Linked DNA regions of Homo sapiens: all the other regions are reported to be linked to region 1. The links are microRNA targets in miRTarBase. Many come from high-throughput screens and were not tested one by one. Region 1 holds a microRNA gene; each other region holds the end of a gene's coding sequence.

Region 1 (7,000 bases):
CAAAAAGAGAATCACAACATAAAGGAGAAAATAGAGACCCAAAGAAGTGGAGTCTGAGGTGGAACAGCCACAGAAAATACAGACTGCCCCAGTTTTTAGTATAAGCATATCCCATGCACATTTGGGAAATACTCATACTAAAAAAATTATTTGTTGTTTATGTGAAATACACCCTGTATTTTTATTTTTTGAGACCGAGTTTCACTCTTGTTGCCCAGGCTGGAGTACAATGGCGCGATCTTGGCTCAATGCAACCTCCACTTCCTGGGTTCAAGCGATTCTCCTGCCTCAGCCTCCCAAGTAGCTGAGATTCCAGGCATGCACCACCATGCCCGGCTAATGTTTTTGTATTTTTAGTAGAGACAGCGTTTCTCCATGTTGGTCAGGCTGGTCTCGAACTCCCCACCTCAGGTGATCCACCCGCCTCGGCCTCCCAAAGTGCTGGGATTACAGGAGTGAACCACCGTGCCTGGCCCCCAACCCCTCCCCTATTTTTTTTTTTTTTTTTTTGAGACAGAGTCTCGCTCTGTTGCCCAGGCTGGAGTGCAGTGGCACAATCTCAGCTCACTGCAACCCCTGCCTCCTGGGTTTAAGAGATTCTTTCCTGCCTCAGCCTCCTGAGTAGCTGGGATTACAGGCACGTGCCACCACACCTGGCTAATTTTTGTATATTTAGTAGAGACGGGGTTTTACCATGTTGGCCAGGCTGGTCTCGAATTCCTGACCTCAGGTGATTCACCTGCCTTAGCCTCCCAAAGTGCTAGGATTACAGGCATGAGCCACCGTGCCCAGCCAAACTGTACTTTTATGTGCTACATCTGGCAACGCTGGTTTGAGGTGGTCACAGCCCAGACCACACCCCCGCTCTCCCAGTCCCAGAGGCTGAACTCATGCTCTCTCCACACACAGCCATTAAGAGTCACAAGCTTCATTAAAGAAAACAAACAGAACCACCCCAAACCTGCCCATGTGAAGAAGCTGCGTGAGTGTACCGACCTCCACCCTATAGAGCCAGGAATCCCTCCGGTCCACAATGGAGCTGCCAGGGGTCCAACTCAAAGACCCCTGGCACAATGACAGAACAAAGAGGATAAAGCTGGGGTGCAGCGTGTTCTAGCCTTTCCTGCACTTAACATACATTCCAGAGCTGCTTCCACTGTTCTGAAGACAGAAGAGTTACACATCAGAGAGAAAACCAGAAACCCTAAGACCCCAGCAGCCCCTTTAAGCCAAAATCAGGAGCACTGGGGACAGCTAAAGGCAGGGAGCGGGACCTGACACCACTCACCAGGGACATCTCCCTAGAGCCTAGGGAAGGCTGAGCTGTGCTTTTCTGTGACCATTTTCCGAAACTCTGTGGCAATGCCGGTGCTGGGGTGTCCTGAGGTGAAGCTAGTGCAGGGCCAGCTCATCTTTCCTGCACAGAGCTGCAGGGCTGTGTGTGGGAGAAAAGCTGCCCTCTCACCGCAGCTAAGGACACATCCACCCCCATGCCCGCCCTGCCCCACTGCCCCTCACCAGTGTAAGCGCAGTGCGTGGAGAAAGGCCGAGAGGCCCTCCATGATCAGGAGGATGGCCACGGTCAGGGTGGCAAAGGCAGTGAAGAAGAAGAACAGCACCAAACCTCCCGCCAAGCTCTTCACGCTCAGGCCGATGTGGATCACCATGGTCCAAAGCACCTCAGACAGCTCTGGGGAATGGGAGACACAAAATCCAGTGCAGTTTGGCAAGAGGCAGCTGTAGGCCATGAATTTTGCTCTGCCATCCCCCTGCTCTAGGGTTCCCTGGATCCTGGCTTCCCACTGCCTTAGTGGGACCACCATGCAGAGCTAACCTGGCACAAGTGCTGAGCCTCCTGTCTGTACTCATTCTCCTTGGGTTCAGGAACCTGAATAATTCCAGAACCTTCATGTAATTTCCATTTGACTTAAGCCCCCCAACTGACAGTGCGCCCACAGAGGGGGAAACTAGAGTTCCGGAGCCCGGAGAGAGGTACTCACGCGCATGAGCGAGGCTGAGGGCCCAGAGCCGCAAGTAGGAGGCAGTGTTGGAGATGCAGCCCAGGCAGTACTCGATGGTGTGGATGGCCTGGTGGACCATGGTGTCCCCAAAGTCAAACTGTCGTGGGAGGAAACCAGAGAGAAGATATAAGGCTAGGAGGGGAACGTGCAGGCATTCTGAGTTGTGGCTACTTGGCGCTTTGAACCTGGGCCAGGGCAGGGGACTGCACTTCCCATGGATGGCACCTCAACTCTGGAGGGGCCAGAAGCACCCAGTGTTGAGCTCAGGTGGTGATTTCGGCAATGCCTTCCCCAAAAATCCTGCCTGACTTAGCCCTCACCTGGGACACCTCCATTCCCCTCAATACATTACATTTTAATTAACTACATCTTAATAAGATTCTTTTCAACACATTTGTTCTTCTCCCTCTGGGGCTCTGTGCTCAAGAGAGGAGTGTGTGCTGAGTTGACGGCACTCTGTTGAGAAAGTGACTGTCTGGGTCTGGGACCCTAAGGACCTGCAGGAGGGCAGGAAGGGATTTTCCCCAGAGTGCGCTTCAGGAGACAGACTCTCAACCCGGACACTGTCCTGAGAAGACTAGGCCTCTATGGCCACTTTACTTATTCTTTTTACAGCCTTTTGGGAGCAAGATAACCTTCTTTTTCTTTTGTGACTTCTAAAGAGATTACACGGTGAATTTTTTTTTCCCTACATGATTTCACCACCATGCACAGGGAAATCCTGACAAAGTTTACAAATTTCCACATGGGTTAAGGCCAAACAGCATATCTGTTTGGGTTAAGACTAAATAGCATATCTCCAGTTTCTTGTTTGTTTTCGTTTTCCTCAAGCTCCCTTTGTCCCAGTTTTCCTTTCAATACCAAGAATTATTTCCAGAATAAAGGAATGGGCTGGAACAAGCTCTTGGGAGTGAACTTTCAGGTTTGCTCCAAGCACAGTCAGGGGTGAATGTGGGCTTCTGAATTTGGTATATTCTGGAAGCCCCAGGTACTTTCCCTGGGCCTCTCTGTCAAGCTGACCAAAGACCAGGAGGCGCTCCCTTATGGGGCTTCCCCCCGCAGAGCCCAGACCAGAATCTTCTGAGCTTTCAGACACTCCTGAGGGCTCAGTGGCCTCCCCATCGGCCCCTGCCCTCAGGTCAGGGTCTATTTTTCACCGCAGTTCCTTTCAAAACCCACGTGATTCCACTCCCAAAGGACACCAGAAATGCCTTGGGAAATCACTGAGAACATGGGGATGGGAGAAAGTGGCTTGGCTGGTAAAGCCACAACAGCCCAGGCCACAGGGGTGCAGCCAGCGTGGAGGGGGCTGGCTCCACCATGCCATCTCTGGGCGAACGTCTGCTTCTCCCTCACCTCTGTCGACACCTAGCCTATTTCTGGGCTTTTCTTCCGGAACAGGCTCTTCAAGCTTCCTTACTTACCCTGAAAACTAGGGTAATCCTAGTTCCCTGAGTTCCCTAAATCCCAACACCGTGGTTAAGAGCTCTTTCCTACCACTGCTGGCTGCCGCCCCAGGGCCCGCATTGAGAGGAAGAAGTCCATGGCTCCCAGGAGTGCTGATCTCTACTCCTATGGGCTGGGAGGGCAGTGACCACTGGGCTCCCTTACAGCCAATCCCTTCAGTGTTTTTATTCTACCTCAAGTTTCTCCCACCGAATAAACTGCAGGACAGGAGAGAAGCCTCGCTTCCAGGCCTTACCCTTGCCTTCTCTCCTTCATTCCCAGCTTCCTGCAGGTGTTCTCAGGAGAAGCAAGGACTGGGTGAGAAATCCAGCTCAGCACTTATGAGTCTGCCACTCAGCACACGCCCGTATCAATCGGCCATGACCAACCATGAATCGCTGCAGAGTCCCTGTCCACATCTTCTGCCTCAGTTTCCTCTCTGCCCAGCCAGTCCTCACCCTACTGCACCCTGGCTTCCACCTTCACTCCTCCACAAAATGCCTCTACTTAGTAAGGTCACCCTAACCTCCCAGTTGTTACTTTTTTTTTTGAGACGGAGTTTCACTTGTCACCCAGGCTAGAGTGCAGTGGTGCGATCTCAGCTCACTGCAACCTCTGCCTCCCGGGTTCAAGCAATTCTCCTGCCTCAGCCTCCTCAGTAGCTGGGATTACAGGCACGCACCACCACACCCGGCTAATTTTTTAGTAAAGATGGGATTTCACCATGTTGGCCAGGCTGGTCTCAAACTCCTGACTTCAGGTGATCCACCCACCTTGGCCTCCCAAAGTGCTGGGGATTACAGGCGTGAGCCCCCGCGCCTGGCCCAGCTGTTAAAGCTAACAGATGTTCTGTGCCCTTGTCCATGCTCCTGCAGTGTCTGTCACCATAGCCTCTTCCTCCTTTTTGAAATACCTGCCATCCCTTGGTTTTCCTCCTACCTCTCTGGACAGTTCTTTTTAGTCTCCATCGAGGTTCTTCCTTTTTTTTTTCTTTTTTCAAGACAGGAGTGCAGTGGCACGATCTCAGCTCACCACAACCTCTGCCTCCCAGGAGAATCAAGTGATTCTCCTCTCTCAGCCTCCCGAGTAGCTGGGATTACAGGCACATGCCACTACCGCCCAGCTAATTTATGTATTTTTAGTAGAGACGGGGTTTCACCACGTTGGCCAGCTGGTCTCAAACTCCTGGGCTCAAGCAATCCGCCCGCCTCAGCCTCCCAAAGTGCTGGGATTACAGGCGTGAGCCACCACGCCCAGCCAAGGTTCTTCCTTAAATGCCGATGCTCTCTGAAGTTTCAGCTTCAGCCCTTGCATCTTTCTGGTGGGATTGCTACTCAGGGCTTCAAGGGTCGCCCCTAGGAGTGACTCCAAGGTGGATCTCTCCATCTCTGCCTTGCCTATTTCCAGCCAGCTGTACTCCTTCTCCTGGGGAACGACAGGCTCTCCATGCTCAACACAGTAACTGCTCTCCTCTGACCACACCGAGATCAACTTCTATTCCATCTCCCATGTCCAGCAGACTGGAGAGTCTGGGAGTCAATCTCGAATCTTCTCTTACTCCTTACCTTTATTAAGGCACTGGGACCTATAGCTTTCACTTCTTTAATATCTCATATTGGTTCCTTCCTTTCCAACTTATCCTACAGACACTTCACTTCAGGCTCGCCATTCTGTCCTGAATCACATCAGATGATGTCGAGTCTATGCCTCCTGACCTTGTCCCTCCCCAACCCAATATACCCTACAACACAGCCACTGGGGGTATTTCAATGCGCCATGGCTGTGTCACCATCAGCTTCACCGCTCTCTCTTGGATGGCTCCTTGTTGTCCAAATGAGGCAAAAACTACTATGGCTGGTTTCTGCCAACCTCTAGTCTCACCTGTCCCCAGTTCCCCACTCCTGCCTCTGCTCCAGCCAAGCTGAATACTTGCTAGTCCCCAACACGTGATGGACCTACAGGTGTTTTGCCCCTGTGAAGCTGCATATGCTGGTGGGTCTGCACCACTCCCTCTACAGGGCCTCCTGCTTGACCAGAGTAAGACAACTTCCTTAGGGAGTCTTCCAGGGTCTCCTCTTCCACTCTCACCCCAGTGTTCATCAGTTGCCCTCTTTCTGTGCTCCTATAGCATCCGGGGCACACTTCTATTACAGCACCTGTCATCCAGACTATCTCCCCACTTTGGGAGGTCTTTGAAGGCAAGCACTATATTCTTCTTGTTTCTGCAGCACTATACATAGTGCTGGACAACACGGAGGGTGAGTGAATGCATGGATGGATGGGATGAATGCACCTGGTGAGGAGACAGTGGGGAGAGGTGCCACTGACCCTTGCTGAGTGGTCACGGCCTTTGAAGATTTCCCAGACAACCACTGGCCTGGCTCTGGTGTGTAGCTGGACTGAGTTCCCGCTAGGAAGAGGTACTAATGCTTCCACTGGGCTGGAGCAAGGGCCTGCATGGGACAAATACATTTTCACAGCCAAGCAAAATGGGGAAGTTCTAGAAGTAGGCTGAATGTTTTTTTAGGAACCTGTTTGGTTTGAAATCATTAGATAAATGTCATGGGTATCTAAATTTGGCTACAGAGAACCAGACTGTATATGTGCCTGATAAAGATAAAATGTTTAGACTACTTGGGTAGCCAAGGGTAGCTGAATCCCTGAGTGAGCTGGGTGGCCAGAGACTGGGGAGGCTGAATTAGAGTCTATCTTGTTGGATGTCCAACCTCCTGGGACATGGCTACAAACGAGAACGCTGGTACACAATAGTTGGTCAGACCATTCTGACAATGTGGGTGCTCGGCTAGGAAAACATTTAAAAGGCAGTGTTGTTGGAGGTAGTGAGCCAGGGAAAGGGTTGGGCTCCTCATTAACATGGAGCACGCCCCACCCATCCCTGCCAGGTAGCTCAGCCAGGGACTGCATAGATGAGCAGTCCAGGAACACAGACACTCTTTGATGCCAGCAAAGGAGCCTCTCTAGGCTTCAGGAAGAGCAGGCCCTACCTGTGTTTACACAGAACAGCAAAGGCTTTCCCATTCCCATCCCACTGCCCTCCTAGAGAGGACCGAGAGTCAGGAAGGGAAGGGTATGGTTTGTGGGTCTAGGCATTTTAGAGAGAAGTGCTGGGGGAAGATGCAAACAGTGCAGCAAGGTGTTTTAAAAACCCAGTTTAAAGAGTGTATGTTGCTAAGTGAATTACTGCTGAGCCAGAGGGCCTTCTACTCGAGATGTGGCCTGAACAGTTAGCCAATTTGCTTTCCAGTCTCCGTTATTCTCTATGTGGCTGATATAATATGAACTCCTTTCACACAGATGGATTATTTCCTTTGGGATGCATCTGGAAGGCAAAGCCTCCTTTTGAAAGCTGTCTCCCTCTCACCTGGGTCACATGGAGGTAGAGCTGACCCCGAGAAGGGTCCACCACTTCTAAGTTGAAGCATCATCAAGCTGAGGAGGGCAGCAGGAAGAGGCTGGCTCAGACAGGGAGGAAGGGTAAGGTTTGCTCACAAGCACTAGGAGGAGCAGGGAGG
Region 2 (7,851 bases), not on the chromosome of region 1:
CTCCAGGCAAGGAGAAGTTTGCTCAAGGAGGAGCTATTATTATCTATGTTTCAAAGTTAAACTATAAATTCATCCCAAATTTAGTTTGGCCTAAGCCCAGGAATAAATAAGGGCAGCTTGGAGGTTAGAAGCAAGATGGAGTCTCTTAGGTCAGATTTCTTTCACTCATAATTTTCCTATGTCAGATTTTTCTCACTGTCATAATTTTTGCAAAGATGGTTTTAGGGGCACCTGTCTTCAGTATTTGCAGGCATTGAAGAAGATTGAGGAGTTGTTAAGAATAGAGAGTGTGCCATGCTTAGATCAGGAGGGCAAGGAGGGGTGCTCCAGATGGCTGCTGGGGCTCAGACCCACAACCAGGGACATCACTGCCCACGTAGCCCTGATGGAACTCCCCAGGGTAGAGCATGTGGGCAGATGCTCTATACCTGAATTACAATTTTCTCTCAATGCTAACCTTGGAAAATGTTCTACATAGAGAAAGCCGAGACCCTCAATACCACTGACTGAAAAAAGTCACTAAAGAGGAACTTGATTTAACAAAGCCTACTCCCATCTCCATCCCGCCCCAAGACTTAGGGAGCTGGCAGGCATTCCCAACTAAACTTGGCTAACAGCAGTGATTCTTAAATTCAATTCCATATCAAAATTACCTACTAACACACAGTTTCTGTGAGGGGTAGGCGGTCTGGTTATCAATAGTTTGCAAAACTCCTTTACCAAGTGATTCTCATGTGCAACAAAACTAAAGAGCAAGTAGATTACAGCCTTGCATGTCAAAGTGTGGTCTCAGACCAGAAGCAGGGACATCACCTAGGAGCCTGATAGAAATGCAGACTCCCGGGCCCCACTCGGCCCTGCTGCCTCAGAGGCTATGGAATCACAAGACCCTGAAGTACTTCATTTGCACATTAAAGTTTGATAAGCACCAGAATACCCTTTAATGATACCTAATAGGGTCGGCTGATTGTCATTATCTCCGTAAATTGGAGCCCTGACTAATGTTGCAATAATGACCTGAAGCTGGGCGGAGGGTTGGAGTAGGGAGGGGCATGCAGACAGCAAGACCTGGAAAGCTGTTGATAAAGAGGCTGGAAGAAGCGGAAGTTTCTGGTGGTTTTTGTACTTGGGTAGTTTGATTTTCACTTTGCCGCCAACCTTCCAGATAGAATGCTACATAGTCAGCAGATTTTTGTATATTTCCTCTGAAAGCTCAATATATGACAAGCCAGCTCTGTGCTTTGTGCTTATCATTAAATTAACCCTCAGGGCCACCACCCTGCAGACGTTAATCATTCCCATTTTGCAGAAGCACTAAGAGGGCAAGAACCTCCCCAGTGTCACTTAGCCATTCCGTGGCAGAGTGAGGATTTCGTTTTTAGTGTTTGATGGATTTTTCCTGCATCATCAAAATTAAGCTTTATTTCACAATTAGTGTGGAAAAAGAGAAATAAAGACCAAACAGAAGCAGTACTCAGCAACAATGCTAGGGCAGAAACTGTCCCCACAGGGTTGACAAGAATGGCATGCCAGGTTCTGGATAGAAATAGAATAATAATTAAACATTAATCAGGCTGCACTTTGGCCCACTTCCTTGTTGCTAAAAGTCACGTAGCACTAGATCCTGACCATTTGTATCTCTTCGTTCCTGTAGATAAGATTTCTGGCATTAAGGTTATAAGATGGTTTAAGAATTGATCTGCATCCCTGTTGTTCCCATAGACAGGACCTCTGACATTAGAATCATAAGGCTTTTGTTTAAGGATCACTTAAGATTTTTTCAGCCCCCAAATTCCAGCACCCAATTTGAAGACCCCACAGAAGGACGGAATCAGCATGAGATTGCAGCTTCTTCATCCTCATCCCACGACTTCACCCCAAACTCTTTGACCAATCAATGATTTCCACACTTCATGCTGTGGCCCACTCCAAAACCCTTAAAATCACTAGCCCCACAGCCCTCTGGGAGATGGATTTGAGGTTTCCTCCTATCTATCTCCTCACTGGGTGACCCTACAATTAAACCTCTTGCTCTGCTGCAACTCCATGTCTCAGGCATTGGCTTGTCCCAGACTTAAAACACCATCATTTTGTCAATGAAAAGAATCACTCTATAAAATTTTTGAAGACATTTATTCTGAGCCTAATATGAGTGACTGATGATCCTAGACACAACCCCAGGAGATCCTGAGAACATGTGCCCAAGGTGATCTGGCTACAGCTTCATTTTATACATTTTAGCAAGACATAAGACATCAATCAATACATGTAAGATGTACACTGGTTTGGTCCAGAAAGGTGGGATAACTCAAAGTGGGGGCTTCCAGGTCATAGGTAGATTCAAGAATTTTCTAATTGGCAATTGGTTGAAAGAGTTAGATTATTATCTAAAGACTGGAATCAGTAGAAGGGAATGTCTGGATTAAGATAAGGGCTTATGGAAACCAAGGTTCCTATTATGCAGAAAGAATCAATAGAAGGAAATTCCTCCTACCAGACCCAAACAGTCTATCATTCTTCAGATGTTTTAATGTTAATGCTGGTCAGTTGTGCCTGAATTCCAAGAGGAGTAGGATATAATGAGGCATGTCTGATCCCCACTTCCCATCATGGCCTGAACTAGTTTTTGAGTTAACTTTGGAATGCCCTTGGCCAAGGGAAGCATCCATCAGTCAGTTGGGGGGCTTAGAATTTTATATTTGGTTTACAATTTAATAGCCTGGGGTTGTGGAGGAAAGCAGGATTAAAAAAAAAGAGAAGGGAGTTTGTCTTCACTTCTTCTATTTTGACACAAGTAAGGCCCTGCCCTACTCCTTCCCTCTCTCACCTTAACCTGTCTGGATCTTCTGCTTCATTTCCACCCAAAGACAGGGAGCAATGGGAAAGTTTCACGGGACACCCCAGGGTGAGTTATTGTTGCCTATTGCTAGTTCTGCACAGAGCCTGATATCCTCCTATTGTGGTCATAAGCACATAACAGCCGCTGAGGGGTCACCAAGTCAAGGTCATCCTAGACCAGCTAACCCCTTAAGAAATAGCACCACCTTCCAGCCAGGGTGTCATAACTGTAGCTTTATTGTAATATCTCCCATTATTTCCAGAACATCACTGGCAACTAGAAACTTGTATGCAAGGGTGATTTTTATAACCGCAGAGTAAATAAAATATAATAGAGAATAGACTTGTAACAATAAATACACTTTAAATATAAATATACACATTGATATCCCACACATATAAAAGTCATGCTCTGCAAATACTTTGTATACACACTGTCCTTGTGGGGTATGAATTCCAGGATGTGTCTTCAAGGATTTACATGTGTCCTATTAGTTGTAGATATTTCCAGAGAACTTATGTAGAAGCAACACATTACAAATTTTGGGGAAAAAAATTAAGTATCACAGAGCAATTTTTAAAATATTTAATACATTTTTGTTCTACAAAGAATGAGCATTTCTTAAATATTACAAACAGTGAAACAAATATACTAGCTTACAGATATGTACAATTTATGACTTTATACTTCAAAAATGCAGGAAGATAAATTATATATTTTATATACATGTAATTTTAGATAGAATGAACAATTCAATATTGCTCTTGTGTTGGTCTTGCTGCATTGTATGCATGCCCATGGCTTGTCGCTGGATGGAGGAGGGGCTCATGGGGATAGAAGGGAAGTCATGGAGCCCCATGCTCATGCCCAGAGCGCCATCTTCAAAGCAATATTTAATTAAATATTAACTTATTCTGCCTGGGTCAAAAACTGCTATGCCCATATGCAATGTAGGATGTGTTTTCAAGAACCACAGCTACATATTTGGGAATGGAAACGTACAAATGCTTTAAAAAAATCTAATTCTGTGATACTAACTCCTCAAACTCTGAGTCAATTGGGGATCTCCTAAAAGACGATTTTGAGATAACCATTGATATCCTCAGTTCAGCTCATAGAAAACGATCTCAAAATGAAGACCCATAATTGAGGCTTCAATAGCCTTCCTAGCCTATAAATTCACAGAAAAAATATGAAGGAAAAAATGTGTCCTGAATGAAATCAGACTTTCAGTAATTACAAACTTCTCATGCTGATGAAGCCCTGAACACTTAAACATGTAGAAACTGATTTGAAAGGGATAAAAGAAATTCTGACTTACAATCAGTAGAAATGGGATGGTTTGCAGGAATATCTCACATTAAAACCTTATTAATACTACAGTCAGTGGCAAAGATCGCATTCTACTGTTAACAAAGAACCCAATCAAAATCTATAGGTCTACTTTGGCCATGAAGTTCTGTTTCTTCTTCCATTTAACCTATACCCAAATTAAAACTTGATCATCTCTCTCTCAGAATAGAAACAGAAAAAAAATGTCGGGACAAGTTGAAAAACAAATGTTCCAGAAAATCCGCCAACTAAAGATCTCATTGCGAATGCTGTGCAACAGCTTTTTAGAACAGAACAATCCTGCTTGAGGAATCTGAAGGGGGCCACGGGACTGGCCCAAATGCTCTTCACCCCCAGCTGGCTCCCACGCCACTTCTCTGCTTTCTCAGCTCAGCATGAGTGTTCCCCCTGTAAAGTCAGGGCGGTTTTGTTCTAGGAGATCATGGAGTCAAGCAGTTCTCAAAGGCACCTCCCACGCTCTAAACACATCCCAAGGGTGAGTTATTGGGAGACCAGAGAGGATGAGATCAGGACAAGGGAACTGAACCAGAAAAGGCTGAAGAAAACTAGGACATATTGAGAGAGCAAGTGTGCTTTGGGGGATGGAGATGGCCACACTGCTGCTGCTGCAAGCCCTGCATAGGAGGGACAGGAGAAACAGCAGTTGCAGGAGGTGGCCTGGTCAAACATCCCCAACTTAAGCCCTCCCTGTGCTGACACTGCCACCCAACAGCCATGCAGCCCCCACCCCCCCAGGCAGGCCCACGTGGGACTGCAGCTCCTTCTGCCTGCCAGGCGGGTGACAGGAAGACTGCTGAGAGGATGATGCCACAGTTGGGGCCAGTAAATGTTCTGCCAACTGAAACAAACAGGAGATCTAACAGGCACTATCAGTGGGAGTTTTCAGGAAGCCAAGTCCAACCAGGCTCTACGATGGCAGAGCAATTAAGCTGAGTGGGCTCTTCCCAGGGCAGAGAAGCCTGCCTGTCTCCAGCCACCATCCTATCCCCAAGCTAACACAGGAAACCTGAAATAGCTGTAATTTGGCTTGAAAGATTAAAGATGCACACAAAATCATTAAGAGAAAAAGATAATTGTTTCTAGAGTGAATACTGTATTGAACAGCTCTTAGAAGACACGTATAATGGAACATGCAAGAGAATTTACTATTATTTAAATGCATTTTCCAGGAACATATTTCCAATACAGATAGATCATCAAAAACACAGTGAATAACTTCTGTTTCAAAGTATTTCATTAAGGTGCAAAGTGTGGCATATACATGTTTGTGACACTACAAAAATGGATGTGCTTCTGGTTGTCTGATGGCCTTTGCTGGCTGCTACCCAGCTGGGTACAGATCGAGTTATTTAAGAGAAGAAAACCACCTTGGAGGAAAAAAACGTCTAAAAATAGTGAGTTTATTTGCTTGTATTTAAAATCTGAGGGCTGAAAGAAGTTATACTCCTCACAGGTCAAAAGAAGAAAATCACATTTCTAAAACCCTCGATGTATAACACACAGGAACATTATTGCGATGTTTTAATACTGTCACGATATCCTCACTTAAAAACTGAAGAACTTCCGACAGAGCAGCACACTGTTAGTGCACTTATCCCTGCACATGAAGATAAATACTCTAATAGCTTAAAATGATACTTCCTAACTAGGTCTAGGTAAGGTGAACACATCCCCTCAGGGTAGCAAGGCTCCTAACAGGCCAGGTGGGAATTAAGAACGGACACCCTTTGGGGGAGAGGCTGTGTTTTTTAATCCCCTTTAAAAAAGTGTAAAATGGACCAAGTGTGGTCCACTTTGGACCATCTGATCTTCTCACCTCTTCCTGCCCCTCCCCTCCCCCAAAGATGTGATTGGCTTCTGTCTGGGGTTGGTGCAGGTAACTCTAGGTTAACACGCTCTCACATGCACGTAGATGACATTTAGTCCTCTCGGTACATGTTGCTTTGTGGGTACCAGTCCTCCCTCCCACCTTCGGGTGTTCATCGCCACCTTCAGCAATTGCTGGCACCTCTCAGTTCCCAGGGATGCTGAGTGTGTTGGTTTTCACTTGAACCGCCTGGCAGATTCTGTGACTCCAGAGTGGGTGGCTTACTGTTGGTGGTGTGAAACGCCCTCTTAAGGACAATAGGACGCATCTCGATTAAATGCAATGTTTAACACGTGGGCATTATACATGCTACCCTGACGACGGTGGGTGTCATTTTGGGGGAGTGAGGTGCCGGGGACACACAGCTGCTCCTCCCGCAGGAAGGGCCTTCACATGATCACGCACTTGCCTTTGAGCTTCTCTTTCCTTTTCTGCTGCTTGCTCTTTTTCCCGTCGATCTGGAGACTCACGGTCCTGCGCTTCTCCAGGTTGAGCAGCTCCTGGAAAAGCTCCTTCACGTTATGGTTGAGCTTGGCTGAGGTCTCCATGAAGGCACACTTCCATGTGCGGGCCAAGGCCTCCGCCTCGCTGCTCTGCACCTCGCGGCTGGGGCTCTCATCACACTTGTTCCCCACCAGCATGATGGGGATGCTCTCCACGTCCCCTTTGATCTCGCAGATTTGTTCGTAGATGGGCTTGAGCTCCTCCAAGGACTGTCGGCTGGTAATGGAGTACACCAGGATGAAGGCGTGCCCTTTGGAGATGGACAGCCGCTGCATGGCCGGGAACTGGTGGCTCCCCGTCGTGTCGGTGATCTGCAATGTGCATATGCTCTTGTCACAGCTGATCACTTGCCGGTAGGTGTCTTCCACCGTCGGGATGTAGCTCTCCCGGAATGTGCCTTTCACAAACCTCAACACCAGGGAGCTCTTGCCAACACCGCCAGCCCCAAACACGGCCACCCGGTAATCGTTACTCTGCTCAGGCATGTTGCTGGAGAGCTCCAACTCTCAGCCAGGACGCACCTAGCAAAGGAACCAGATGTTTGAAAGAATTAATAATTAAAATATAAAAACATTAATAAGGATAGCTCTACCCTCTTTTGATAGCTTAAAAATGGGAGGTGATAACATTTAAAATAGCGACAATTCTAAATCCAATAAATTTGGTCAATCCGCCGTTTTCAAAAGGACAGACGATCTACTCAGGGGCTCACTGGAGCCCATCTGTTTCTCTTTATTGGACCATGACAATGAGCATCTTTGCTCCCACATAGGCCCTAAGCCCAGGTAAAAGATGCAAAGTGAGCCCGAGAGACAGCACCAAGGAAAGGCAATGAGAAGATAAATTAACTACCCCCGTAAAAACACAAACACACATATGCACACACACATCACCATCATCAACAGCAGCATATCTTTGCTGTTTTACCTGAAGTACTGAGTACCCAATATACTGGTCATCATAATGTGTGTGTGTGTGTGTGTGTGTGTGTGTGTGTGTGTGTGTGTGTGTGAGAAATACTGGGAGAGGGAGATGAATGAGGGAAAAGGATGTTCTAATATTTATTCAGTGTTTATATTAACTCATGAAATCCTCACCACTCTGCAGGAGTTGGTGCCATTAGCTCTGTTGTACAATGATGAAACTGGAAACAAGGAAGAGATCGGGAATGGAATGTCTCTGATGTTACACAGCAATAAGAGGGAAGGCTAGGATACAACCAAAGCATTGTGGATGTCAATGCCCATCCCATAAGCTGTCTGTAGACAGAGCTGGTCCCAGTGACTTG
Region 3 (7,851 bases), not on the chromosome of region 1:
GCCTCCGCCTGGCCTAGATCTTTTCCCAATCTGCACACTTCGGTGTCCACCTGCCGTCCTGTGTACATCCAATGGACACTTTATTCCTGCATGTCCTCAACTGAACTTAGTTTCCTCCCGAAGCTTGCTTTCCACCTCTGCGCACCCAGCCGTCAGCCCTAGTTATCCAGGCCTGACCCTTGGCTCTCACTCTAGTTCTAGTTCCTTATCCCTCCTCCTTCTGCTGCCCACCCCATGCCAGCTAACTGAGGTCTGTCCCAGATGTCCCCTCCTATCCTCTGGTATCCTCAGCACTCAGGATGACCCCTGGCCACCTCTGTCCTGGATTCTTCAGCATCTTTCTCTTTACCCTGACTGACAGACTAATCTTTCTGAAATGCAGGCCTGACAGAAAAATGTGGCATTTCTCTGTTTGCAAAAGTACCTTTAATGGCTCCTTGAGGGCCACCAGATAAGATCTGAACTCCTGAGCCTGGCATGTGAAATCCCTCATAGTCCTCTCTGGTTGCATTTTCTTCTGCTTCCCCTGTGTCCTCCTGGCCAGAGGTTTGTAGTGGAGTCATCACCCTGTAGCGCCACCACCTCTGCCTGGTGACCTGACCCAGGGTCTGGTCTCAGTCTTGCACAGAGCAGGTGCTCAGCAAGGGTGGGACAGATGGGGTACCTTCTGTCAGACAGGGGGTGCATGCTGAGCCCAGAAAGAGGCTTCTGTGGCCTTTCCGAGTTAGAAAAGCTGTACCAATCGCTTGCAGGGGGCCTTTGGTACCCTGGGCTCAGCACTGAGGAATTCAGGTTTAGCAAGTGAGGCCAACAGACAGTGCCAGCTTGGCCTAGGCAGGACCTACATCTCCTTAGCTGTGTGGAGCCTCAGGGTGGGTGGTATAGGATCCGAGGAAGCCAGGGGGCTGTAGTGGGGCCAGGCTGGACCTCTGTGCCCTGAGCATGGCTTTCTTGTTTTTCAGTTTTGGAACTCCCCAAAGAGCTGTCAGAAATCTTTGATCCCACACGAGGTAGGCTGCTGCATTCCTCCCTGAGGCTAGGGGTAAGGGACACAGCTCATTGGGTCCTATGGCTGTTTTCTTGCCCTTTTGAGGACCTTGTTGTGGCGCTTATGGTAACTGGGGCAAAGGGTGAAGTTCCTGATGGGCAGGTGGGGTTCCCTTTCCTGGGCTTTGGTGGGTGGAGAGGTGGGAGCTGGAATGTTAGTAACTGAGCTCCCTCCATTCCCAGAGTGCATGAGCTCGGAGCTGCTGGAGGAGTTGATGTCCTCAGAAGGTGGGTGGCCCTGGAAGGTGGGAGTGGGTGTGGGCAGGGGTTGGGCTGCTGCTAGGGGAGCCCTGGCCCAGGGCCTGAGACTAGTGCTCTCTGCAGTGTTTGCCCCTCTGCTTCGTCTTTCTCCACCCCCGGGAGACCACGATTATATCTACAACCTGGACGAGAGTGAAGGTGTCTGTGACCTCTTTGATGTGCCTGTTCTCAACCTCTGACTGACAGGGACATGCCCTGTGTGGCTGGGACCCAGACTGTCTGACCTGGGGGTTGCCTGGGGACCTCTCCCACCCGACCCCTACAGAGCTTGAGAGCCACAGACGCCTGGCTTCTCCGGCCTCCCCTCACCGCACAGTTCTGGCCACAGCTCCCGCTCCTGTGCTGGCACTTCTGTGCTCGCAGAGCAGGGGAACAGGACTCAGCCCCCATCACCGTGGAGCCAAAGTGTTTGCTTCTCCCTTTCTGCGGCCTTCGCCAGCCCAGGCTCGGCTGCCACCCAGTGGCACAGAACCGAGGAGCTGCCATTACCCCCCATAGGGGGCAGTGTCTTGTTCCTGCCAGCCTCAGTGTCTTGCTTCTGCCAGCTCCTTCCCCTAGGAGGGAAGGGTGGGGTGGAACTGGGCACATGCCAGCACCACTTCTAGCTTCCTTCGCTATCCCCCACCCCCTGACCCTCCAGCTCCTCCTGGCCCTCTCACGTGCCCACTTCTGCTGGGCCTTTAGCCCTAGAACCTGCAGGTGGTGGGGGCGGCTACCAAGAAGGAACAGAGGTCTCTGGGGAGGAGTCTGGGTGGTCCAGCCCTGATGATTGGCCCCACCTCCTGCTGCCCCATAACCCTCTCTTCATTTCGGCTTTTTCATTTACCCTCATTTAGAGCCATTTGCAGAGATTTAGAAAGATTTACAGTAACGAATGGATTCCTATATAAAGATTATTTTTATACTTTTTGCAGCAAAAGGAAATTGTAATATTTGTACAGTGTTCAAGTGAATAAAAACCATGCCTAAGGCTAGCTCTGATGTGGTTCTTTGGGGACCCTCCTTGGGACTGTGCTGGACTGGCAGTGTGATTGGGTGGGTCACCTTGCTGGAACTAGGGGTGGGGCGGCCTCCGGCAGCCTGCCCTCCCCGCCCCCACCTGCCGCACCTTGGTGTGGGGCGGGGCCGCCTCGGCGGGGCGGGGCAGGCGGAGCCGTCCTACCTTCCTACCCCCAGACTCCAACCCGGAACTAACCTCGGCTCCCTTGGGAAGGCCGCGTTGCATGGCCAGGAGCAGCAGTCTGGGCCGCGAGTGCGGGACACCGAGGTCAGGTCTCGGAAAGGGAGGACCTCCTCGTCCCCAGGGGCCCCAGGCCAGGTGCACCCTTGGCCGCAGGTGCACGGTCTCCGGAAAGTGCAGGCGCCCACGTCCCAGCTGGACCATGGCGCCTCCGCGGAACGTGGTGAAGATTGCCATCAAGATGCGTGACGCCATCCCGCAGCTCATCCAGCTGGACCAGGTCACCCGGCTGGTCCCGCCTCCATCTGCCCCACTGCCCCACCTCCCGGTAGCCCCCTGGCCCTCGGGGCAGCCCGCCCCACCCCTCCCCCCAGGCTCCTCCCCATCCCTCCCTGCCCAGGCCGCGAGAATGACCACTCCACTTGCAGGCGAAGCCCCTGGCCGCTGTGCTGAAGGAGGTGTGCGACGCGTGAGTGCTGCCGGGCCAGGGCCTGCGGAGGGCGGGAGGGCAGGAGGGGCGGCGCCCCCTGCCGGCCTCGCTGAGCCTCGTGCCCCTCAGGTGGAGCCTGACGCACTCTGAGCGTTACGCCCTGCAGTTTGCGGATGGGCACCGGAGATACATCACCGAGAATGTGAGTCCCCTCTCCCCAGCCCCAAGCTCGGCCTTCCGACCCCTCTAACCCACCTGGCCCCGATAACTCTGGCTCTTCATCCCACTACCGGAGCGCGATCTGTTATTCACCCCCAGCCGCCCTCACCGACACCCCAGTTGATCAGTCCTCGGAGCCCTCCCTGACCTCGCTGCCTTTTCTGCTGTCTTCTCCAGAACCGCGCGGAGATCAAGAATGGCAGCATCCTGTGCCTCAGCACGGCCCCAGTAATGCCCCTCCCGTCCCGCCTTCCCCATCCCTGCCCCTTTGCTCCAGGTCCAGAGGCCCCCCGCCCCGGAGGCCCCCGCCCCAGCCCTGCCTTGCGCCACCTAGTTGACGCCCGGGGCCGCACACTTCCAGGTCCCACCCTTACCATGCCCAGCCTCTTCACCTCTGCTCCTGCTCCGTTCCTGCCAGGACCTTGAGGCTGAGCAGCTCTTGGGTGGGCTGCAGAGTAACAGTCCTGAAGGGCGCCGGGAAGCCCTGAGGCGCCTTGTTCCGCTGGCCTCGGACATGATCTTTGCCAGGGAGGTCATCAGCCGTAATGGGCTCCAGATACTAGGCACCATCATTGAAGATGGGGACGAGTGAGCACAGGGATGTGTGGGCTGGGGGAGATGGTGGGTCTTTCTGGTCCTGGGGTGGTCCTGCTCAGCCCCAGATGTCCCCCCTCCAGCCTAGGAGAGGTGCTGGCCCTCAGCCTGAGGGCCTTCTCAGAGCTCATGGAGCACGGCGTGGTGTCCTGGGAGACTCTGAGCATCCCCTTTGTGAGGAAGGTGGGTGGGCTTTCCTAGGGCAGCGGGTGGGGGCAGTGGAGCAGTGGGGCAGTGGTAGACCCGGTCTTCCATGGGGGTGAGGTGGTGACACCCCCGCCCCTTACAGGTGGTGTGCTACGTGAACATGAACCTCATGGATGCCTCCGTGCCTCCCCTGGCCCTTGGGCTGCTGGAGAGTGTGACCTTGAGCAGCCCAGCCCTGGGCCAGCTGGTCAAGAGCGAGGTGCCCCTGGATAGGCTGCTGGTGCACCTACAGGTGTAAGCCTCTGGGGCTGGGGTCCAGATGCAGGGAGCAGGGCTGGAGCCTGAATGTTCCACTGAGCCCTCTTCTTGCCATAGGATGAACCAGCAGCTGCAAACCAAGGCCATGGCCCTGCTGACAGCCTTGCTGCAGGGGGCCAGCCCTGTGGAACGCAAGGTGAGTGTCGATCGGTGGCTAGATGGGGGCAGCACCCGGTGGGCGCTGCCCCACCCTGAAGCAAAATCCTCTAAGCCCCCCTTTTTTTTTTTTTTGAGATGGAGTCTTGCTCTGTCGCCCAGGCTGGAGTGCAGTGGTGCGATCTTGGCTCACTGCAAGCTCTGCCTCCCGGGTTCACACCATTCTCCTGCCTCAGCCTCCCGAGTAGCTGGGACTACAGGCTCCCGCCACCACGCCCAGCTGATTTTTTTTTTTTTTTTTTTTTTTTTAAGTAGAGACGGGGTTTCACTGTGTTAGCCAGGTTGGCCTCCATCTCCTGACCTCGTGATCCGCCCGCCTTGGCCTCCCAAAGTGCTGGGATTACAGGCGTGAGCCACCGCGCCCAGCCTAAGCCCCCTTTCTTTCTACCCCCTCAGCACATGCTTGACTATCTTTGGCAGAGGAACCTTCGCCAGTTCATCTATAAGGTAGGAAGTGGTGGGCCAGGGGGACCTCTCTGCCCCTCCCTCCCCGTGAGCCCTCGCTTACACCAGGGACTGGCTGTCCTGCAGAACATCATCCACAGTGCAGCACCAATGGGCGACGAGATGGCTCATCACCTGTACGTACTGCAGGCTCTCATGCTGGGGCTGCTGGAGCCGCGCATGCGGACGCCCCTGGACCCCTACAGCCAGGTGTGTGTCTTTGGTGAGGACAAGGCAGGGGGTGGCTTAGAGCTTGGCCTTGAATCTATAATCTTGATCCCCTCCCCCGCCACCCAACACTGACCCCAGGAGCAGCGGGAGCAGCTGCAGGTCCTACGCCAGGCTGCCTTCGAGGTGGAGGGGGAGTCCTCGGGTGCCGGGCTAAGTGCTGACCGTCGCCGTTCCCTCTGTGCCCGAGAGTTCCGCAAACTGGGCTTTTCTGTGAGTATCACCCCTACCCAACTCCCCACCCCTGCCTCAGCCCAGGGCTGTTGTTCCAGGCGGCCGTGGCCCTTCTTGAACTGCCTGTGCCCACTTCCCCCAGAACAGCAACCCAGCACAGGACCTGGAGCGCGTGCCCCCCGGTCTGCTGGCCCTGGACAACATGTTGTACTTCTCCAGAAACGCGCCCAGCGCGTACAGCCGGGTCGGTGACAGGGTAGGGTGGGGGGGTGGCAGCATCCCCCAGGCAGGGTCCCCATGGGCTTAGCTGTGACTCCTTGCCCCATTCTCTGCGCCCCCAGTTTGTGTTGGAGAACAGCAGCCGCGAGGACAAGCACGAGTGCCCCTTTGCCCGGGGCAGCATCCAGCTGACGGTGCTGCTGTGTGAGCTGCTCCGTGTTGGGGAGCCCTGTGAGTGGCCTGGACTGGGCACAGCATGGCCAAGAGCAGGGGACGGAAGGGCAGAGAGGGCCAGGGGCTGTATGCACTTTCTCCCTGAGCCCCTCCTGCCCCCCCACTCCAGGCTCTGAGACAGCCCAGGACTTCTCACCCATGTTCTTCGGCCAAGACCAGAGCTTCCACGAGCTCTTCTGTGTGGGCATCCAGCTGTTGAATAAGACCTGGAAGGAGATGCGGGCTACACAGGAGGACTTCGACAAGGTGGGTGGGGTGGGAGCTGGGAGGCCTGGGCCAGGGCAGGGGGCTGATCTGGGTACAGAGCTTAGGCCCTGAGCTGAGCTTGGGCGGCCCCAGGTCATGCAGGTGGTGCGGGAGCAGCTGGCCCGCACTCTGGCCCTGAAGCCCACTTCCCTGGAGCTCTTCCGAACCAAGGTGAATGCGCTCACTTATGGGGAGGTGCTGCGGCTGCGGCAGACTGAACGGCTGCACCAGGAGGGCACACTGGCTCCCCCTATACTGTGAGTCTGGGGGGATGGATCCTCAGTCCTAGCCCTACCTTCCTTGGTGCCCCCTGGGCTACTCCCCAGGTCAGATGTGCTCAGTGACACCCCTCTATCAGGGAGCTGCGGGAGAAGCTGAAGCCAGAGCTCATGGGCCTGATCCGCCAGCAGCGCTTGCTCCGCCTCTGTGAGGGGACGCTCTTCCGCAAGATCAGCAGCCGGCGGCGCCAGGGTCTCTGAATGGGCATGGGCAGGGGGCAGAGGGCAGGCAGAGGGCAGGCAGAGGGCGGCTGGCTTGGTGTCAGGACCTCTCAGCACTCTGGCCCTCTTCCCTTTCTCCACGCAGATAAGCTGTGGTTCTGCTGCCTGTCCCCCAACCACAAGCTGCTGCAGTACGGAGACATGGAGGAGGGCGCCAGCCCGCCTACCCTGGAGAGTCTGCCCGAGCAACGTAAGGCGGGCAGGGGCGGGGGCCAGATACCTGCTCTCCCCAGACCGCCCTGGGCCCCGGGGCTGCCAGGGCTGCAGTGCTCAGCCCAGCCTTCTTCCTGCAGTCCCTGTGGCCGACATGAGGGCACTCCTGACAGGCAAGGACTGCCCCCATGTCCGGGAGAAGGGCTCCGGGAAGCAGAACAAGGTGAGTACAGCGGGCCAGGGGCTCCTTCCCACCCGCCCCCGCCTACCCTGTCCCCTGCTCAGTGTCCCCGCTCCCTTGCTTCCCCAGGACCTCTATGAGTTGGCCTTCTCAATCAGCTATGACCGTGGGGAGGAGGAAGCGTACCTCAACTTCATTGCCCCCTCCAAGCGGGAGGTGAGTGTCCGCCAGGCTGAGGTCGGCAGGTGGGCAGGGGAGGCAGATGGGCAGACCCTCACGGCTCTGTGCCACCCCCAGTTCTACCTGTGGACAGATGGGCTCAGTGCCTTGCTGGGCAGTCCCATGGGCAGCGAGCAGACACGGCTGGACCTGGAGCAGCTGCTGACCATGGAGACCAAGCTGCGTCTGCTGGAGCTGGAGAACGTGCCCATCCCCGAGCGGCCACCCCCTGTGCCCCCACCCCCCACCAACTTCAACTTCTGCTATGACTGCAGCATCGCTGAACCTTGACAGTGTGGCTGGCCATGGGCCACAGCTGCGGCCACTGCAGCAGCCATGAAGGGCAGTGGGTAGAGGAGTGCAGGCACCCTGACCAGCAGAGATTGCTGCAGAAATAAAGTCTGCTTGGCTCTTGGGATATGTTGAGCCAGCTCTGTACCTTGCGGGCTGAGCCTGTGACAGTGACAGTCTTCCCCTTCTGCCTTCAAACTTAGCTGGTGGATAAGATGGGGCATCAGGCCAGGCCACAAACTTTGACAGCTACGGTTGAGGGGCTGGTGTTCTGAAGGGGGTGGGGAGAGGCTGGGACTGCAGCCTTTCTCCAAGGTGAGTCCTCAGCCTCCCTCCATGCTGGGCCTGCAGGGAGGGTTGGCCTGTGGTCTGGGGGCACCTGCCAAGGGAGAGGCTGAGCTGCCGGCCTGCTGCAGGAGAACTGGCAGGGTAGGAGGCACTGCCCCAAATGGATGCCTTCCTGGACAGCGTTAACAGGGGCGTAGTCTGGGAGCCATCTCCAGAAGGCTCCTGACAATCTGACCTCAGTCCTCAAGCTTGCATGGCCCTGCCTGGTGTCCTTTGTAGGACTTGGAGTTCTCTGGTGAGAGGCATGAAGGGAGAGAGGCAG
Region 4 (7,851 bases), not on the chromosome of region 1:
GCCAATGAGCGTCCGAGGGCGGGGAAGCCCCGCCTCTGGGTATAAGAATACGCCGAGCCCAGCTACGCGACGCGGAGGTTTCGGAGCACTACAGGTTGCGGGCCTTTGTGACCCCAGGCTGCGGCCGCAAGGTGCGCAGTAGTGGGCTGGGCCGGGGCACCAGTCGGGTTTGGTTTTGCTCCGCCCGGCCGAGCTGCAGGGACCGCACGGTGCCCGGGTCTCCCGCCGCAGAGCAGCCGCTGGCCCGGGCCGGGGGAGCCGGCGCTGACCACCGCGCGCTGTCCCCGCAGGCAGCCGGCCTGCCGCCATGGCCGACCACCTGATGCTCGCCGAGGGCTACCGCCTGGTGCAGAGGCCGCCGTCCGCCGCGGCCGCCCATGGCCCTCATGCGCTCCGGACTCTGCCGCCGTACGCGGGCCCGGGCCTGGACAGTGGGCTGAGGCCGCGGGGGGCTCCGCTGGGGCCGCCGCCGCCCCGCCAACCCGGGGCCCTGGCGTACGGGGCCTTCGGGCCGCCGTCCTCCTTCCAGCCCTTTCCGGCCGTGCCTCCGCCGGCCGCGGGCATCGCGCACCTGCAGCCTGTGGCGACGCCGTACCCCGGCCGCGCGGCCGCGCCCCCCAACGCTCCGGGAGGCCCCCCGGGCCCGCAGCCGGCGCCAAGCGCCGCAGCCCCGCCGCCGCCCGCGCACGCCCTGGGCGGCATGGACGCCGAACTCATCGACGAGGAGGCGCTGACGTCGCTGGAGCTGGAGCTCGGGCTGCACCGCGTGCGCGAGCTGCCCGAGCTCTTCCTGGGCCAGAGCGAGTTCGACTGCTTCTCGGACTTGGGGTCCGCGCCGCCCGCCGGCTCCGTGAGCTGCTGAGGGCGGCCGGCGCCCGCCCGGCGTGCCGGAGAGGAGAAAGGGCCCGACTGCCCGCCGGACCCTGCACCCAGCGACTGGGCCCCGCGCGCGCCCTCCGCGAGGGTGGAGGCGGCGGCTGTGTGCGCAGGGCCCGGCACCGGACTGGGACCCTGGCGTCCCTCCAGGCCTTGCCTCCTGCGGGAGGACAGTTTGGCTTCACTTCTCTGACCCCAGCCTCGGCCGTAAAGTGAAAGAGACCGGACCAGCTTCAGCTTTCGGACTCTGGTTCTTGGATCGTGTCCTCTCCCCCTCGCCGCCCTCTTCCCCCAATCTGAGCCATTGCAGGCCTCTGCCTGCTGCCCCCTCTCTCCTCGGGATCGGGTCCCCAGAGCCACCATCTCCTGAGCCTCCCACCCCGCTGCCTGGGCCCTGTGGTTGCTGGGCCTCCCACCTCAAGGAGGGGAAGGTTGTACAGCCCGAACCCGTGGAGCAATGCCCTGTCTGGCCTCCAAAACCAAAATAAAACTGGGTCACTTTACAGTCTTGCCGTTTTCATTTCCTTATCACCCCGAGCCCTGACTATATTTAGCTTCCAAAGTCCCAAGGTTGCTGAAGACACTGGATGGCATGGGGGCCACAGTCCCCAGCAGTGCCCAGGAGAGGAAACCGACAGTTTCTTTCAAAAATATCTCGTGGGTTGTGCAATTGTTATGTCACAACCTGGAGGGCAGAGGCTGCCACTGGGTGGTGGGGTAACCCACTGGGCTTCCCAGCTCCTAGGGTAGGGTGGGGGGAGCTTGGTGCTCTGCCAGAGAGGAGCTGGGTGGCACCGAGTTCAGACAGCCTAGCTTTGGACCCTGACTCTCTCCTTTGCCCAAGACACCATCCGTTCTGATTTTTGAGGCGGTTTCCCAGAGGGAGATGGTCCCCGTCTCCTCAGGTAGTTACGCTGCCTTTAGCACAGTGCCAAATACCTGGGCAGTTCTCAGTAAGTGACGGCAATTATTATTCTACAAATTGGTGCTGATTTTATTCCAGGCCCTGTGTCAACCTGGTGCATGTTCTCATGGAATCACAGCCCAGGTGGGAGGAGGTGGGTGATAGGCCTGAAAACAAACTAATCTTGCTGCAAGGAAGACTGTGATGAGTTCTAGAAAACAGTGCTAAGCAGCACTTTGGGAGGCCGAGACGGGCAGATCACGAGGTCAACAGATCGAGACCATCCTGGCTAATATGGTGAAACCCCGTCTCTACTAAAAATATAAAAATTAGCTGGGCATGGTGGTGCGCGCCTATAGTCCCAGCTACTCGGGAGGCTGAGGCAGGAGAATCGCTTGAACCCAGGAGGCAGAAGTTGCAGTGAGCCGAGATCATGCCACTGCACTCCAGCCTGGCAACAGAGCGAGACTCCTCAAGAAAAAAGAAAATAGTTCTGGGGGGGATTGTACAGCCAGGACAATAGACCGGCCAAGCGGGCACACCCAGAGAAGGGAGCAGTTTCAGCTATTAATAGTTGAGGTTGGGGTCAGTTCAGGCTTCAGGGAAGCGGTGACATTTGACGTGATGAACAGAGCCTTGAGTGATGAATATGTTTTTAGGAGAGGAGCCTGTTTCAAGGCAGGAAGGCACACAAGTACGATGAATGTTTGGGGAAGGTGTGGGGTGTCTAGAAGGTACAAGAAAGGTCGAATGGCTTTACGACAACTTCGTGAGGCAAGCACAGTCCTCATTCTACACATGAGGGTTGTGGAGTGTGCCCAGGCCTGGCAGGATTTGGCCTCAGAGTCCTGAGCACCAGCGTGAGTTCCTGGCCACCCTCTGCAGTTCACTCTGGAAAAATCCCTAGGTGCTTCTGAGATGTGGGAGAAAAGCTGGGAAAGAGATTGAAGTCAGGGAGGAGGCCGGGTCAGAGACGCTGCGGTGGTGGGGCATTCTCTAGGAGAGCATGGATTCCAGGGACACTGGAGGGGAACACCAGGCTGAGACCTTCTGTCCCCAGCAGCTGGGCTTGACTCTCAAGCCAGGCTTTTTTGTGGATGTGACCCTCCACCAACCTGTGAGTTCTCCCAGGACCTACTGTGCTCTGAAGCTACCAGGATGGAATGTGGCTGGTGACAGGAGGTGTTTGGCAAATGAATAAAGGTCTCCCTAAGATCATGGGATTTCTGGGACAGGATGAAGAGAGAAAGGAAGAGAGCCTTCTGGGAAGGGACTGGCCTGAGCTCTGGGCTCAGAGGGGCTGGCATTTGCCCACCCCACCGCCCCGCTGCTTTGCCCAGAACCCCAGGCCAGAGACAGAAACCACAGGGCTGAATTAGTACAGGAGGGTTTGACCCTGAGCTGAACACTTCCCTGATTCTCTTCTCTCTCCCCTCAGTTTCCACACCAGTAAAATGGGGCTAATATCCCTGCCCTGCTACATTACAAAGCAATAACCCTCACAATTAGTAAGGAACAAATTCAGAGATGGGTTGATAAGCAGTTGGCAAACTCTGAAGTGCTCTCCATATGGAAGGGATTACAACGAAAACCCCAACACCTGCCTCTTTCCAGAGTTAAGGGGGAAGCGGAGGAGAGAGTCCAGCTGCTGAGCTCTTCCCTCCTGCATCCCTCCAAAAGGGACTGCTGACAAGTTGGACAGCAGACAGATGGACAGGGGAGAAGATGAGGCTGGGGCATCCCACAGCCTGGATCCCCAAATCCCTGATACTGTTTGGAGGCTTCTGACCCTACCATCCCCTACCAGGGGAAGAGAGAGTACGTGTAGAGACAGTGAGGAGAGCAATGGGCTTGTCGTCTGACAGCCTCAGGGTCCAGTTCAGAAGCAACTCTTACTAGCTGCCTGACCTCAAGGAAGCCACCACACCTCCCGCATCTTGGCTCTCCTAAGATAATCACACGAGCTTCCGTGGTGCCAACAGGGTGTCGCTCATGTCTCCCCCAGGGCTGCCTCCTAAAGCAACCTGTTGCCAAAGGGTGCTGTGGATTTCTCTCTTATACCTAGGCTGGATCTTGGGGGTCAGAAATCAGGCTTCCTCAGGGTTGAGAACTGAGTCATGACACAAGTCATTTTCCCATCCTTTTGTTGTTGTTGTTTTGTTTTGTTTTCCTATTCATATGAAAGTTTCCAGGCTGATGTTCTTTATTTTGAATTATCTTTTGGTTGACTGGATTTTATCAACAAGCTGTCATTTGTGTGTGTGGTTTTTTTTCCTTCAAGAAAAGTATAATTTCCCTTGAACTCATCTCTACAATGGGAATGCTAATAGTACCACCCTGCAGAACTGCTGTGGAGATTAAACAAGTTAGTGCAGGTAAAGTATTGAGAGCAGTGTGGTTTGTAGTAAGTGCTGTTATCCCTGATAACAGCACTTTTTGGAGATGCCTTTGTATTAGAATATTAGAAAGGCTGTGTTTTAACCAGCTAGAAAGGGGTTACTCCAACAAGCAACACTGTTACAGGTGGGGTTCCCTGGGAAGCAGACTCTGAGATGACATTCAGCTAGCAAGAGGTGTATTAGGGAGTGCCTTCAGGATCAGCAGCTGCAGAAGGGAGGGGACAGAAGGAGCTAAGAAGCTACAAAGCAGGCCCAGCAGGAGCCTCAGCCAGCCCCGCTGGGAGCTCTGGAGCTAGAAGGGCCCTTCAGAGTTGGCCTGAGTTGGACCATTTTAATCCTTTATACTCCTGCCTCCATCAGTCACTGGATGTGAGCCACCCAGAGAAGTGGTGTGACTGTGGGCAAGGCAGCTGTCCCCAGCTAAGCTCATCCCTGGAGGAGCTGCCAGGGTACGGCTGTCTACCAACAGCAGCACTCCTGGGGGCTAGAGCAATGATTCCTTTTCTTCTCTTTTCTTTTGTTCTTTTTTTTTTTTTTTTTTTTGAGACAGAGTCTCACTCTGTCGCCCAGGCTGGAGTGCAGTGGCGCGATCTCTGCTTACTGCAACCTCTGCCTTCCGGGTTCAAGTGATTCTCTTGCCTCAGCCTCCTGCATAGCTGGGGTTACAGGTATGTGCCACCGGACCCAGCTAACTTTTGTATTTTTAGTAGAGATGGGGTTTCACCATGTTGTCCAGTCTGGTCTCCAACTTCTGGCCTCAAGTGATCTGCCTGCCTTGGCCTCCCAACGTGCTGGGATTACAGGATGCACCACCGTGCCCAGACTAGGGCAATGATTTCATAGAAGGGGGCTCTGGGCGGCACATCACAGTGTTCACCACAAGCACTGGGGTGGGGACTCTGGTTCCCAACAGCAAGGGACTCTTTAAATTTATGCCCTGGGTATCTCTTTTGCCTCACCTTAGTCTCAGACCTGACCAGCACCTTCCCCATTACAGAACAAAAACAACAAAATGTAAATGTATCAACCTTACAGGTTTGATGTGATGAGACTCTATACAAAATACCCCACACATGGTAGATTCTCAATAACTGAGCGCTGCCATCACTATCATAATTGTCATTGTCATCATCATCGTCATTGTCATCATCATTATCATCATCGTCATTGTCATCATCATCGTCATCACTCCAGGTCAGATAAGTGTTCAACAGTCATTTATCGAATAAATTAATGATCAGTCTGATCCTAGCCTTTTCCCAGGCAGCTTAAGTGGTTTAGCTGATTACTAAGTAATCCTCTTGAATTCCTTAATCCATCGTGGCCTAACTCTTCATGCCACCCTGTTGTTAGAAGTGCTGGGACAAGATTAGTGCCAACTATAAGACCAAATAAGTGCTTACTGAGTGGCTGCTGCGTGCAGGCATGGTGGGAACTGACGGGGAGTGCCCAGTGGCACTCTTTCTTTTCCAGTCTCTCTTTAATCACCGCCCAACCCTGTAAATAGCACTGCTAGGTAGTTTATCCCCATTCCAGAGGTCAGAAAACTGGGGCACTCAGAGAATTACTCCAAGTCACACCTCAGTAAGAGGTGAGGTGAGCATGTCCACCCCACCATATCCAGGGCCTGTCCCCTTCCCAGGCTGGATCTGGCCAAGGACCTGAGCCTGGGTGGGATAAGAGCAGAGTCCCAGAGCTGATCTGCCACTCTGAGGCTGTGAATTGCAGAGGAAGTTACTGGGCCTCCTTAGGCTTTGATTCCTTCTTCCATCCAATGGAGAGAATAATTCCAACATCTGAAGAATGTGTGTGCAAAGATTCACATGAGGCTGGGTTTCTGAGAGCACACTGCAAGCAGTGCAGTGCTGCCTGGCCAAAGTGGGTTTGTGGCTGAACAACCATGGCCCTTATCCTGTAGCTGGTCTGGGAAGAGGACACCTGCATATACTTTGGGGCTTGAGATCTGGCCAGCCTGGAGCATGCAACGTAGAGTCTCATGTTGAGGGCTCTAAGGAGGCACTGCTGAGCAGCTCAGCGTCTGGACGGCCCTGAGGGCTGGTGCTGATAAAAGAGTGGGATGTGGGTCAGCTTGGGGAGGACACACAGGTTGGGGGACTGGGCATGAGTAAAGGCCCAGGGCCCAAAGTGTGCCCTGATGGATAGAAGAAATAAAGGAAGCTACTCTGAGTGCAGTCCCCTCGTCTGTCAAATAGAGACACGATAAGCTTCTTGTGAGAATGAACCAAGGTGATGTTAAGTGCCTGACCCGTGAGCTGCTCAGGTGGAGCTGTGGCTGGGAAATATGACCACAGGGACGAGAAGGACAGAGCCCTGCCCCACCCAGCCTCCAAGTGCCTTCCCACCCTCAACTCCAGCCACCCCAGGCTCCTCATGCACGATGTTCCTCGTGCCGCCAAGCCTCTGTTCCTTTGCCTGTGCCATTTCCTCAGCCTGAAATGCCCTCCATAGGGCCTTTTCCACATCCAAAGGCCTATTACCTTGTGTGTCAGAGTCGCTGAGGGGTCTTTCTCCACCAGACTGTAAGGCTCACCATCGCCCCCTGTGTGGCTCAGAGGGCATTAGGAAGTGCTGGGCCAGGCATGGTGGCTCACACCTAGAATACCAGCACTTTGGGAGGCCGAGGCAGGAGGATCACTTGAGTCCAGGAAAATTTTAATACATTTTAAACTTAAAATTTCATTTTTTATTTATGAGGTGTAGTTAACTCTAAGGTTGGCAAAACAAATTTTCAAAATAATTTTTTAAAAATAAAAATAGTCTGGGCGTGGTGGCTCATGCCTATAATCCCAGCACTTTGGGAGGTCGAGGCAGGTGGACCATTTGAGGTCAGGAGTTCGAGACCAGCCTGGCCAACGTGGTGAAACCCCATCTTTACTAAAAATACAAAATTAACTGGGTGTGGTGGTGGGTGCCGGTAATCCCAGCTACTTGGGAGGCTGAGGCAGGAGAATCACTTGAACCCAGGAGGCAAAGGTTGCAGTGAGCTGAGATTGCACCATTGCACTCAAGCCTGGGCAACAAGAGCGAAACTCTGTCTTAAAATAATAAAAATAAATAAATAATAAAATAAAATAAAATATTATAATCCTATTTATATAAAAAAGAGATGTGTATTATGTATATGTATGTAACGTATGTGTAGTATAATGGAATCGTGTGTGTTTGAAAAGTCTTGTGTGGGGGTGGTCTGACTTTTTACTCTGTGCTTTCTACATTGTTTGAAAATTATTTTGTCTTAAGCGTATATTTATTTTGACCAAAAACATGTGTTTGTTTGAAACAAAACGATTGGCTCACACCCTTTCTTGGGCTAGGGCAGTCTGCTGTCTGATGTGCCCGTTTTATGGCAAAGCCCTAAGCCTGAGCTCCTCTGTGGGAAGAGGCATACAAATGAGCCCCGCTGGAGACCACCCTCTAATGGGCTGTGGAGGACTCCCTGCTCCATCCCTGGCCACACTTCTGCTTCACGGAGATACCTGGACTTGATGTTCGTGGATATCTACCCTCCGTGACTCTACAAATGAGAACAATCCCCAGACAGGTGCGGTGGCTCACACCTGTAATCCCAGAACTTTGGGAGGCTGAGGTGGATGGATTACTTGAGGTTAGGAGTTCGTGACCAGCCTGGCCAGCGTGGTGAAACCCCGTCTC

The links. The annotated mature microRNA hsa-miR-5010-5p reads AGGGGGAUGGCAGAGCAAAAUU and lies in region 1 at 1,750-1,771, opposite strand. An mRNA with a match to its seed (bases 2 to 7 or 8) in the 3' UTR can be bound and repressed. Matches are read on the target gene's strand: a 7mer-m8 pairs with bases 2 to 8, a 7mer-A1 pairs with bases 2 to 7 and ends in A, and an 8mer does both.
Region 2: miRTarBase lists DIRAS2 as a target of hsa-miR-5010-5p. Seed matches in the 3' UTR shown: 7mer-A1 at 6,396-6,402, 7mer-A1 at 5,921-5,927 and 8mer at 4,768-4,775.
Region 3: the mRNA of E2F4 is a reported target of hsa-miR-5010-5p. Seed matches in the 3' UTR shown: 8mer at 1,925-1,932.
Region 4: miRTarBase lists CITED4 as a target of hsa-miR-5010-5p. Seed matches in the 3' UTR shown: 7mer-A1 at 1,164-1,170.

What each region holds. Positions count from the first base shown.
Region 1 is chr17:42,508,979-42,515,978 of GRCh38, reverse strand. It overlaps MIR5010 (microRNA 5010), which reads right to left and starts at 1,791; the gene lies at 1,672-1,791. It overlaps ATP6V0A1 (ATPase H+ transporting V0 subunit a1), which reads right to left. Exons shown (of 22, transcript NM_001130021.3): 20 at 2,001-2,118; 21 at 1,519-1,690.
Region 2 is chr9:90,606,780-90,614,630 of GRCh38, forward strand. DIRAS2 (DIRAS family GTPase 2) reads right to left here. Exons shown (of 2, transcript NM_017594.5): 2 at 3,053-7,084. The coding sequence starts at 7,048. The coding sequence ends at 6,449. Among named protein-coding and RNA genes, the nearest start is that of LINC01501, 28 kb to the left of the region's middle. RefSeq lists enhancers at 6,197-6,697, 6,698-7,198.
Region 3 is chr16:67,196,637-67,204,487 of GRCh38, forward strand. E2F4 (E2F transcription factor 4) reads left to right here. Exons shown (of 10, transcript NM_001950.4): 8 at 963-1,010; 9 at 1,231-1,275; 10 at 1,372-2,282. The coding sequence ends at 1,487. It overlaps ELMO3 (engulfment and cell motility 3), which reads left to right and starts at 2,495. Exons shown (of 20, transcript NM_024712.5): 1 at 2,495-2,768; 2 at 2,917-2,957; 3 at 3,048-3,120; 4 at 3,315-3,365; 5 at 3,556-3,725; 6 at 3,815-3,914; 7 at 4,021-4,172; 8 at 4,254-4,332; 9 at 4,749-4,799; 10 at 4,884-5,006; 11 at 5,106-5,237; 12 at 5,341-5,442; 13 at 5,540-5,648; 14 at 5,761-5,897; 6 more. The coding sequence starts at 2,691. The coding sequence ends at 7,241. It overlaps MIR328 (microRNA 328), which reads right to left and starts at 5,759; the gene lies at 5,685-5,759. RefSeq lists a silencer at 1,831-1,890.
Region 4 is chr1:40,854,584-40,862,434 of GRCh38, reverse strand. It overlaps CITED4 (Cbp/p300 interacting transactivator with Glu/Asp rich carboxy-terminal domain 4), which reads left to right and starts at 72. Exons shown (of 1, transcript NM_133467.3): 1 at 72-1,381. The coding sequence starts at 308. The coding sequence ends at 862. It overlaps LOC105378676 (a long non-coding RNA gene), which reads left to right and starts at 4,941. Exons shown (of 3, transcript XR_947239.2): 1 at 4,941-5,373. It overlaps LOC124904157 (a long non-coding RNA gene), which reads right to left and starts at 51. Exons shown (of 3, transcript XR_007066025.1): 1 at 1-51. RefSeq lists silencers at 1-45, 206-285.